Homo sapiens: one gene and its partners. The protein of the gene in region 1 purifies or fractionates together with the protein of each later gene. This does not show direct contact. Each region holds a gene or a part of one and is shown in the gene's direction. Other genes may lie near its edges.

Evidence for each region.
Region 2: the proteins of ALDH1L2 (region 1) and EMID1 purify together in Homo sapiens (co-immunoprecipitation; one large-scale study listed by IntAct). This does not show direct contact.
Region 3: the proteins of ALDH1L2 (region 1) and POLA1 purify together in Homo sapiens (affinity purification with mass spectrometry, with the first as the bait; one large-scale study listed by BioGRID). This does not show direct contact.

What each region holds. Positions count from the first base shown.
Region 1 is NC_000012.12:105,074,459-105,077,958, reverse strand, and holds part of ALDH1L2 (mitochondrial 10-formyltetrahydrofolate dehydrogenase precursor), read left to right. Parts: intron 1-3,500. UniProt on the Homo sapiens protein: Mitochondrial 10-formyltetrahydrofolate dehydrogenase that catalyzes the NADP(+)-dependent conversion of 10-formyltetrahydrofolate to tetrahydrofolate and carbon dioxide.
Region 2 is NC_000022.11:29,226,396-29,229,895, forward strand, and holds part of EMID1 (EMI domain-containing protein 1 isoform 1 precursor), read left to right. Parts: intron 1-94; coding exon 95-156; intron 157-3,500.
Region 3 is NC_000023.11:24,714,418-24,717,917, forward strand, and holds part of POLA1 (DNA polymerase alpha catalytic subunit), read left to right. Parts: intron 1-136; coding exon 137-252; intron 253-723; coding exon 724-786; intron 787-1,944; coding exon 1,945-2,037; intron 2,038-2,466; coding exon 2,467-2,554; intron 2,555-2,872; coding exon 2,873-3,074; intron 3,075-3,162; coding exon 3,163-3,341; intron 3,342-3,500. UniProt on the Homo sapiens protein: Catalytic subunit of the DNA polymerase alpha complex (also known as the alpha DNA polymerase-primase complex) which plays an essential role in the initiation of DNA synthesis.

The sequences.
Region 1 (3,500 bases):
GGGTCTCAGGAAAATGTACTTTGTTTTATTCTTTTGTGTGAAGGTCCTCTGTGTGAAACTGCCAATTCTTACTTGGATAGCTTTGGCCTTACTTTACACCCTGCCCAGATGGTTCTATTAGCATCTGGCCAAAGGGCTTCAGATCAGGGCAGACTCTTCGCACTGTGCCTTGAAGTTTTCTTTGGAAAGCTATGTGTACCTTTTTTTTTTTTTTTTTTTAATTCTTGGAGCATAGTCAGGGTCTGTATTAACTTGCTTCCTGAAGAATTCCACCAGAGGGTGGACAGCCTGGGAATGCATTATTTGACAATTTGGAAAGCAAAGGCTCTGCTCCCTGCAAAAGTCTCCTCTAGTGAAGAATGTTCTCTCTAAAGAAACAAGGTCGGGCGTGGTGGCTCACGCCTGTAATCCTAGCACTTTGGGATGCCAAGGCGGGTGGAGTGCCTGAGCTCGGGAATTTGAGACCAGCCTGGGCAACACGATGAAACCCCATCTCTACTAAAATTAAAAAAAAAAAAAAATTAGCTGGGCATGACGGCGTGCGCCTGTAATCCCAGTTACTTGGGAGGCTGAGGCAGGAGAATTGCTTGAACCCGGAAGGCGGAGGTTGCAGTGAGCCGAGATGGCGCCATTGCACTCAAGCCTAGGTGACACAGTGAGACTCTGTCTCAAAAAAAAAAAAAAGAAAAAAGAAACAAGATTAGATTATAGAACTTATCATCCAGATTTGGAAATGACTGTGTGTCATTTTATGCCCTTTCTCACTAATGCGACAGACACCTATAGTGAGAGCCGGTTAAAGAATGGTGCTGTCTCCCACGTCACTTCCACTGTGGCATTTCCTTAAACAGGCTGATGGAACTATTCCCAATTGACCTGTCAAACTGTTGCTATGTTTTTCTTTTTCTAAAGTAGGAGGGGAACTTTCAGCATAGGAAAGCCTTAGAAACACATCTGCTAAAGTAAGACAGATCCAGGTTTGAATCCTGCCCTGGACCCTTATTAGCTCTGCCCTTGGGCAGGTTACTTAACTTTCTGACCCCTTTGTTTTCTCATTTGCAAAATGGGTCACTGGGGGGATTAAAGATGTATAATAAGCATTTGATAAATACTTTTTGAATTAATGAAAAGGGCTCAACATAGTGTTTGGCTCATGGTATATTTCCAATAGGAAATATCTATTATCATTATTTGTAGGTACCTAGGTATTGCTTATGGTATGATAATAATAATAGGTAACATTTACTGAGCATTTACTATTGCCATGCACTGTGCTAATGCATTACACACTTTATCCCATTGAATCCTTATAACAACCTTATGAGATAGGTACTATTACTATTCTGATTTTAATTGATGATGGAAAATAAAGCCCAGTTCAAGACTGCACAGCTGGTGTATGAAAAAACAATAGGCACTAGGATAATAAACAGAGTTGGAATCTCAGGGCTGCCTCTTAGCAGCTATTTGACTCCTGGCTACTTAACCTCTCTGTCTTTAATTTCTTTATCCCTAAAGTGGGTTAATAATGCCTGTCTCCAGGAGTCATTGTGCAATCAAATGAGATAATAATGTGAAATACTTGGCCCAAACTAGGGTCTCATTAAAATGTTTGCTCTTATTTCCACCATTTCTTCCTGACCGAAACTCCCCAGGGCAGAATCTTGTTCTTGTGGGCAGACATACCACTCTCCACAGAGCAGAGATTCTCAGACTTCCATGTACTTCTGAGTCACTGAAGAGTTTGTTAAAATGCAGCTTCCTGGGCTTAAGATTCTGAGTCAGTAGATCTGAAGTAGGGCCCAGGAATCCACATTTTAAACATGTTCTCCCAGTTACTTCTGCCAATACAGGCAGGCACCACACCTGGAGAAATAAGACTGAAGTAAAATAGCCTGTAATCCTGGCACTTTGGGAGGCCAAGGCAGGTAGATCACCTGAGGTCAGGAGTTTGAGACCAGCCTGGCCAACATGGTGAAACCCTGTCTCTACTAAAAATACAAAAATTAGCTGGGCATGGTGGTGTGTGCCTGTAATCCCAGCTACTAGGGAGGTTGAAGCACAAGATTCACTTGAACCCGGGAGGCGGAGGCTGCAGTGAGCCGAGATTGCACCACTTCACTCCAGCCTGGGTGACCATGGAGTGAAACCCTGTCTCAAAATAAATAAATAAAGTAAAATATATCAGTCCAATTTTCTGGAATCTTGCTAACTCATTATAAACATATTTATAGTCATGAAATCTGAAAACTTCTCAGTGTTAGAAACTCACCTTTATAGCTTCAGCTTCAGTGTAAAGCTCAGAAAGTGTTTCAATGAATGTAGTGTTTCCAAAGATACTGACATGGTTTCTTTTTTTGCGGGGGCGGGGTGTGGACAGAGTTTCACTCTTGTTGCCCAGGCTGGAGTGCAATGGTGCGATCTCAGCTCACTGCAACCTCTATCTCCCGGGTTCAAGCAATTTTCCTACCTCAGCCTCCCGAGTAGCTGGGATTACAGATGCCTGCCACCATACCCGGCTAATTTTTGTATTTTTAGTAGAGACAGGGTTTCTCCATGTTGGTCAGGCTGGTCTTGAACTCCCGACCTCAGGTGATTCACCCGCCTCAGCCTCCCAAAGTGCTGGGATTACAGGCGTGAGCCACCGCGCCCGGCCAACATGGCTTCTTTAAATACTGTCTTTCTCAGAGAGGACTGAATCTGGAATTGAACTCCAAATAACCAGACGACAGCCGAGCGGCACATTACATTTGAGTCATCTCAGTCTCTTGGCTCTTGGGTGTTTGAAAAGTAGTATTTTAGATGTCTTGAATATCTGGCATTGGTAATGGTAAGTGGTAAAGCCAAAATTTTTGTAAGGTGGCAAACATGTAGATTCTATTTCAAGCAACAGCATTAGTTATAGGATTTGAAGATAGCATATAGGACATTTGATTTTTTTGAGAAGAGGAAATTAAATGGTCAGCCATGCATTATCTGCAGGTGAATTTGCTGTTGTTACAGAGTTAATCTGTTTGTTTGCAAGTATTTGTTGAAGCTTACTTAGGTTCTTTGGGGATAGAAAGTTTGGCTGACCCTAGGATGTTTTTTTAATTAGTTAAATTAGTTAAAACTTTGTTTTATTATCTGCTCAATTACAGGGAAGTTGTGATCTGGTATCCTTTTAAGTCCATTCCTAAAAACAGGATGTTATGTATGCCTCTAATAAAGTGGGAAATAAGGGAAAATTAAATTTCTTCAAAAACAGAGTTTCTCAGTGAGGCTTTACTAATTTAGAATTACTTGCCAGAACATTAGCGAATCCCATTTAGATTGGAGGGGGATAAACATCCTAAGTTCAGATCCCCGTGGAGCCACATGCTAACATGGAAGAATGTAAAGTAGAGAGAGTTCTGCGGAGGCACTGCCAAGAGAGGAAGCTCATAGGAAGTCATGACCCTCTGATTACCCTCTTTCTTTCTTTCTTTTTCTTTTCTTTTTTTTTTTTTTTTTTTTTTTTT
Region 2 (3,500 bases), on another chromosome or scaffold:
ACGCTTTCCTCCATCCCAACCCCCAGAGACTGAAGGGTTCTGAGGGGAAGCCTAGGACCCTTGGCCCTGGCCCCAGCTTCCTCCCTCCCCGCAGGTTGTCTCAACTGCAGCAAAGTGTCAGAGCTGACAGAGCGGCTGAAGGTGCTGGAGGCCAAGGTGGGTGAGCAGCTCCCTCCTGGGTGGTTGTTCCCTGCCACAGGCCAGTCCAGGCAACCACCATCCCACCCTCCCCACCTCCTTCCCCGCACCCCATGCTCGCACCCTCAGTGAACCCACAGGGCAGCTCTGAACTGACTCGGCGAGCAGCATCCCCTGTCAGGCATGTCATGGTCTCCTCCAGTGTCCCTCCCTAGGAAGCCTGCTCACAGGTCGTGCCTCAGTTTTCCCACCTGTCAAGCGGAGGGGATACTAGCATCCACTCAGGGAAAACTGTATATGTGAAGCGCAAGTCACAGCCAGCCTGGCCTGTTCTTCCTCCAGGAGGCCTGTGAGCTCCCTCCCATGGGGCTCCATCACCATCCCCACCAGATCAGCATAGACACTGCCCAGAGATCCTGGTAGGATCTCCTGCCTGCCCCTGCCCCATCCCCTTTCTCTATCCCCCCAACCCCCATCCATAATACTATCTTCCTGGTTTCAAAAACAAAACATCTATCACACATCTCAAATTATTTCAAGATAAAATGTTGTGTATTTTTTGTTTTGTTTTGTTTGAAACAGGGTCTTCCTCTGTTGCCCAGGCTGGAGTGCAGTGGCGAGATCTCAGCTCACTGCAACCTATGCCTCCTGGGCTCAAATGATCCTCCCACCTCAGCCTCCTGAGTAGCTGGGACCATAGGTGAACAATACCACATCCAGCTAATTTTTAAATTTTTGGTAGAGATGGGGTTTCTCCATGTTGCCCAGGCTGGTCTTGAACTTCTAAGCTCAAGCAATTCACTGTCTTGGCCTCCCAAAGTGCTGGGATTACAGGTGTGAGCCGCTGCGCTGCCATAAAACTTTTTTTTTTTTTTAAATTAAAAAGTACTGCTTGGCGCAGCGGCTCACACCTGTAATCTCCATACTTTAGGAGGCCGAGGCAGGTGGATTGCTTGAGGCCAAGAGTTCGAGACCATTCTGGCCAACATGGCATAACCCTGTCTCTTTTAAAAATACAAAAATTAGCCTGGCATGGTGGCACACACCCATAATCCCAGCTACAAAGGAGGCTGAGGCTTGAGGATCACTTGAACCTGGGAGGTGGAGGTTGTAGTGAGCCAAGATTGCGCCACTGTATTCCAGCCTGGGTAACAGAGCGAGACTCTGTCTCAAAAAAAAAAAAAAAAAAAAAAACAAATTAGGCCAGGCGCAGTGGCTCATGCCTGTAATCTCAGCATTTGAGAGGCCGAGCCGGGTGGATCACAAGGTCAGGAGTTCAAGACCAGCCTGGCTAAGATGGTGAAACCTCATCTTTACTAAAAATACAAAAAATTAGCCGGGGCCGAGTGCCGTGGCTCACGCCTGTAATCACAGCACTTTGGGAGGTCAAGGAGGGCGGATCACCTGAGGTCAAGAGTTCAAGACCAGCCTGACCAACTTGGAGAAACCCCATCTCTACTAAAAATACAAAAATTAGCCGGGCATGGTGGCGCATGCCTGTAATCCCAGCTACTCGGGAGGCTGAGGCAGGAGAATCGCTTGAACCCGGGAGGCAGAGGTTGCAGTGAGCCGAGATTGTGCCATTGCACTCCAGCCTGGGCAACAAGAACGAAACTCCATCTCAAAAAAAAAAAAAAAAAAAAATGAGCCGAGTGTGGTGGCAGGTACCTGTAATCCCAGCTACTTGGGAGGCTGAGGCAGAGAATTGCTTGAACCCAGGAGGCAGAGGTTGCAGTGAGCCGAGATTGCACCACTGCTCTCCACCCTGGACGACAGAGCGAGACTCCGTCTCAAGAAAAAAAAAAGTAATTAATTAATTAATTTAAATTAAAAAGTACAACATTCTAAATTTAGAAACATGAAAAATTCAGAAATGTGAAAAAACAGCCAGCAAACCATTCACAGCAGTTGCCCATGCCCCCAAAGAATGCAACTGTCGACACTTAAGCATCCTTTCTTCCAGATTTTCTAAACACACAGACATGCATACACTTTAGTGCCATTCTTTGCTCCATCATTCCCTTCTCTGGAAATTTATCTTTTGTTTGTTCGTTTTGTTTTGATTCAGAAACAGGGTCTTGCTCTGTCACCCAGGCTGGAGTGCAGGCATTGCAATCTGCCGTGAGTTGGAGCTCACTGCAGCCTCCAATTCCTGGGCTCAAGCTATCCTCCTGCCCCAACCTCCTGAGTAGCTGGCATTACGGACATGTGCCACCACACCTGGCTAGTTTAAAAAACTTTTTTTAGAGCTGGGGTCTTGCTATGTTTCCTAAACTGGTCCTGAACTCTTGGCCTCAAGGAATCCTCCTGCCTCAGCCTCCAGGAGTGTTGGGATTACAGATGTGAGCCATTGTGCCCAGCCTGGGAACTTAATGAGATTATCAGATGCAAAAATGTTTACCAATAGAGAAATTTGAAAACCAGGCAAAAGAAGGCATGGTTGTATAATTGTGGAGAATTCATTCTATGGGGCATTCAGCAGCCATTTACAATACTTCCCTTCCCTAATATGAAAAGATTTCTCTAGGCTGGGCATGGTGGCTCACACCTGTAATCCCAGCACTTTGGAAGGCCGAAGCAGGAGGATTGCTTGAGGCCTGGAGCCCGAGACCAGCCTGGGCAACATAGCAAGACTCCATCTCTACAAAAAATTAGCTAGGCTTAGTGGCACACAGCTGGCACACAGTCCCAGCTGCTTAAGAGGCTGAGGCAGGAGGATCACTTGAGCTCAGACGGACAAGGCTGCAGTGAGTCGTGATAGCACCACTGCACTCTAGCCTGGACGGCAGAGCTAGACCCTGTCTCTAAAATTAAAAAAAAGAAGATGCCGCTGGGCGCGGTGGCTCATGCCTGTAATCCCAGCACTTTGGGAAGCTGAGGCGGGCGGATCACATGAGGTCAGGAGTTCGAGACCAGCCTGACCAACATGGAGAAACCCCATCTCTACTAAAAGTACAAAATTAGCCAGGCTTGGTGGCGCATGCCTGTAATCTCAGCTACTAGGGAGGCCGAGGCAGGAGAATTGCTTGAACCTGGGAGGCGGAGGTTGCGGTGAGCCAAGATCACGCCATTGCACTCCAGCCTGGGCAACAAGAGCAAAACTCCACCTCAAAAAAAAAAAAAAAAGAAGATGCCCCTGATTTATCAAATGGGAAAACCAAGCTTCCAAATAGCGTGTGCTGGCACCTGAGTTACAAGGCACGGGGTTCCAGGAGCAGTTCCCTGAGCTCCCTCCCAGGAGAAGCCCATGTAAGAGGCAACTCAGTCCCACATCTTGATGGGAATTCCTGGTTCAGGATCTGCCAGAGAGTTTCAGCTTTTCTCTGGACAGGCCCCCACGATCCCTGAGCCCCTGATCTGTG
Region 3 (3,500 bases), on another chromosome or scaffold:
AGTGCTGGGAATACAGGCATGATGTATTTTTAATTCTTAACATTTTTCTTCCCAATAGAGATCAAGTGACTAGGCTTTTAGTTTTCCATTTTGATTTTTGCTGATGCATGTTTCTAAATAATTCATATTCCAATAGGAAAAGATGGTAAAGCACGCAATAAAGACAAGAGGAATGTAAAGAAGCTCGCAGTGACAAAACCGAACAACATTAAGTCAATGTTCATTGCTTGTGCTGGAAAGAAAACTGCAGATGTGAGTTTCATGGTTTCCTTATTTTTTGTATTTTCCTTTGTGAGGTGAATTTAATATTTGATTATACAGATAACAGGTGCTCTGTATATATTTGAGTAACATTTTTCCAATTTCACTCACTAAGTTGGATGTAGATTTCTAAGTGAATTAAGGCACCTCAGTGGTTGGAACTTGCGAAATGGAAAAGAGAATTGAACAGAAAAGCTGAATTGAGAGTGTGTTTAATTTTAGTGAGTAGCAGGAAGATCATGGATTAAGGGCGAAAGTAGAGGATGGGAGCTATAGATGTAGGAATGCTATATACACAGGTGGTTGTTAAAATCTGTGAATGTAGATGAGCACTCAGAGAGTGAGGAATGAAGAGGCAAGGACTAACTGGCTAGGTCCTTCCTTTCATATACATGTGTGTAGTTTTGGTGAGACATTTTAAGTGCAAGGCTTTCTCATGTTACCTTTCTTTATCATTTCCAGAAAGCTGTAGACTTGTCCAAGGATGGTCTGCTAGGTGACATTCTACAGGATCTTAACACTGAGGTAAATGAATCTCCAGGAGTTGTAAAATATGCAGAGGACATAGACTGAAGAAACACTCTAGTAATTATACAAAACAGACTATTGCCAGAATTTTTTCTTTTTTTTTGAAACAGTAGCTTGCACTGTTGCCCAGGCTGGTGTGCAGTGGTGCGATCTTGGCTCGTTGCAACCTCTGATTCCCAGGTTCCTCTTCCCTGATTCCTGCCTCAGCCTCCCGAGTAGCTAGGATTACAGGCACCTGCCACCACGCCCGGCTAATATTTTGTATTTTTACTAGAGACTAGGTTTCACTATGTTGGCCAGGCTGGTCTCGAACTCCTTACCTCGTGATCCGCCTGTCTTGGCCTCCCAAAGTGCTGGGATTACAGGCGTGAGCCACTGTGCCCGGCCTGTTGACAGAATTTTTTAAAATGTAAGAACGCCAACAAAAAACCCCCCACCAAAAAACAAAGAAACCCCCTTCAGATTGGTTTTATCCCACCATTTTAGGTGAGTATTTCCAGCTGTTAGAGCTGTGTGATTATGTAGATAGGGATGTGTGGGTGTGTGTTTGAAGTAGTAAGAATATACCCAGGAGTCAGTTCTGTGAGTGCTCACTGCTTGTGTTCAGTTGCTGTGGTGTATGTTCCCTAAATAGATTGAAGCCTGTCAATCTGCACAATCAGGTATAAGAGCCTTGTCTTGAATTCTGAGTGGGAATGAAGGAAGAGTGAGTGAACTATCCCTGATAGAACTCAAACAGGATTAGCTGCATTGTGAATTTGAGATTTGGCCATTTCCCATAAAGACTACGCTCTCATTTAGAAGTGTACTTCTTTTAAAGTGACCATTGATTAAAATGACTTAACAACAACACCATGTAGTTTTATCTTGACAATTTTTAAATGTAATATTCTCAAAGGGTCAGTGAAAGTATGTTAAATTTTAAGAAGAAAAAATTTGGGAGGGGGTAGATTTAATATCTATTTTAGTTTTCTTGTGATTTCTATAGTATTGTTGCTATAGTAACCACAGTACATGACATCGATGGGAGGGGGGAGGGGGAAAGGGAAAGAAAAGAAAGCTTTGCTTATTGGGCTTCAATGAGTGAAGAAGTATACTTTTTCTGTCTGTGGTAAACCAAGCATGGCAGTGAATATGTCTTACCTTTCCTTTTAGACACCTCAAATAACTCCACCACCTGTAATGATACTGAAGAAGAAAAGATCCATTGGAGCTTCACCGAATCCTTTCTCTGTGCACACCGCCACGGTAAAGTGTGTAGAGATACCTTCAATCTTGATTTATAGTATTGCTTTAAACTTATTTTGTTGCTTTTCTGTATGAGGGAAATACCTTTACATTTGTTTTTGATTTTTGTTTTAAATTAGGACTCCCATTCAATTTATAGTTTCATGTATTTCAAAAATAGCATGTGCCTGCCTTTTTCATAGTAAATTTGCAGTAACTAGTGTGTGTTTATTATAGGTATTACAACTGTGGTAAATGCAATAATTTTCCTCCCAGAAGCAAGTATTTTTTTGTAAACCTAGGTAACAGTAAAATAATTGAAGCTGTTACATTAATAATACATAAAATCTTTTTATAAAAGGGAACTGTCATTATCTTTGGTCAGGGTAGGACAGTTGCATATTTTTAGTATGTAGGTCTAACTGACTAAATATTTAAAAACGTTTACAGGCAGTTCCTTCAGGAAAAATTGCTTCCCCTGTCTCCAGAAAGGAGCCTCCATTAACTCCTGTTCCTCTTAAACGTGCTGAATTTGCTGGTAAGTGTGATGTCAGGCAGAATTGCAAGAGTGTTGAGTGGTTTCTGTCAAAAATGGAGGCCCTATGATGGAGGAGGTAGAGGAGATTTTGAAGGTGTTGTGATGGCAAGTTTAAATGTGAAGATTTGAATTCATAAAAATTTCAGTAAAAGTTAAAAACACCCAATTTGGAGATTAAAGAGAAATGCAAACATAGTATAGAAAAGGGACAGGCTGCTATTTTAGTGTTGGATAAGCCTTTGTGCGCCTTTGTGTGCCTTTGTGTGCCTTTGTGTCATCGCAATAACACATGACAAGAATGTGTGATGATGCCTACAGGCGATGATGTACAGGTCGAGAGTACAGAAGAAGAGCAGGAGTCAGGGGCAATGGAGTTTGAAGATGGTGACTTTGATGAGCCCATGGAAGTTGAAGAGGTGGACCTGGAGCCTATGGCTGCCAAGGCTTGGGACAAAGAGAGTGAGCCAGCAGAGGAAGTGAAACAAGAGGCGGATTCTGGGAAAGGGACCGTGTCCTACTTGTAAGAGCATTTTATGACTTTTCTGGCAAATAGGACCACAATTTTTCTGTTGGATTTTGAAAGGTTTTTGAAAATGTGATTTCTGCAGAGGAAGTTTTCTCCCGGATGTCTCTTGTTGGGACATTGATCAAGAAGGTGATAGCAGTTTCTCAGTGCAAGAAGTTCAAGTGGATTCCAGTCACCTCCCATTGGTAAAAGGGGCAGATGAGGAACAAGTATTCCACTTTTATTGGTTGGATGCTTATGAGGATCAGTACAACCAACCAGGTAATCATATATAAGGTAACTATATGCCTTTAACTCAGAGTAGGACTTTTCCCTTAAATATTTTATTTTTTGTTTCTTTTTGTGTGTTTTGTCTTTTTATTTAATCAGTTTATTTCTGTTTTTTTTTTCTTTATCCTTAAATACTTGAGTCACTGTAAT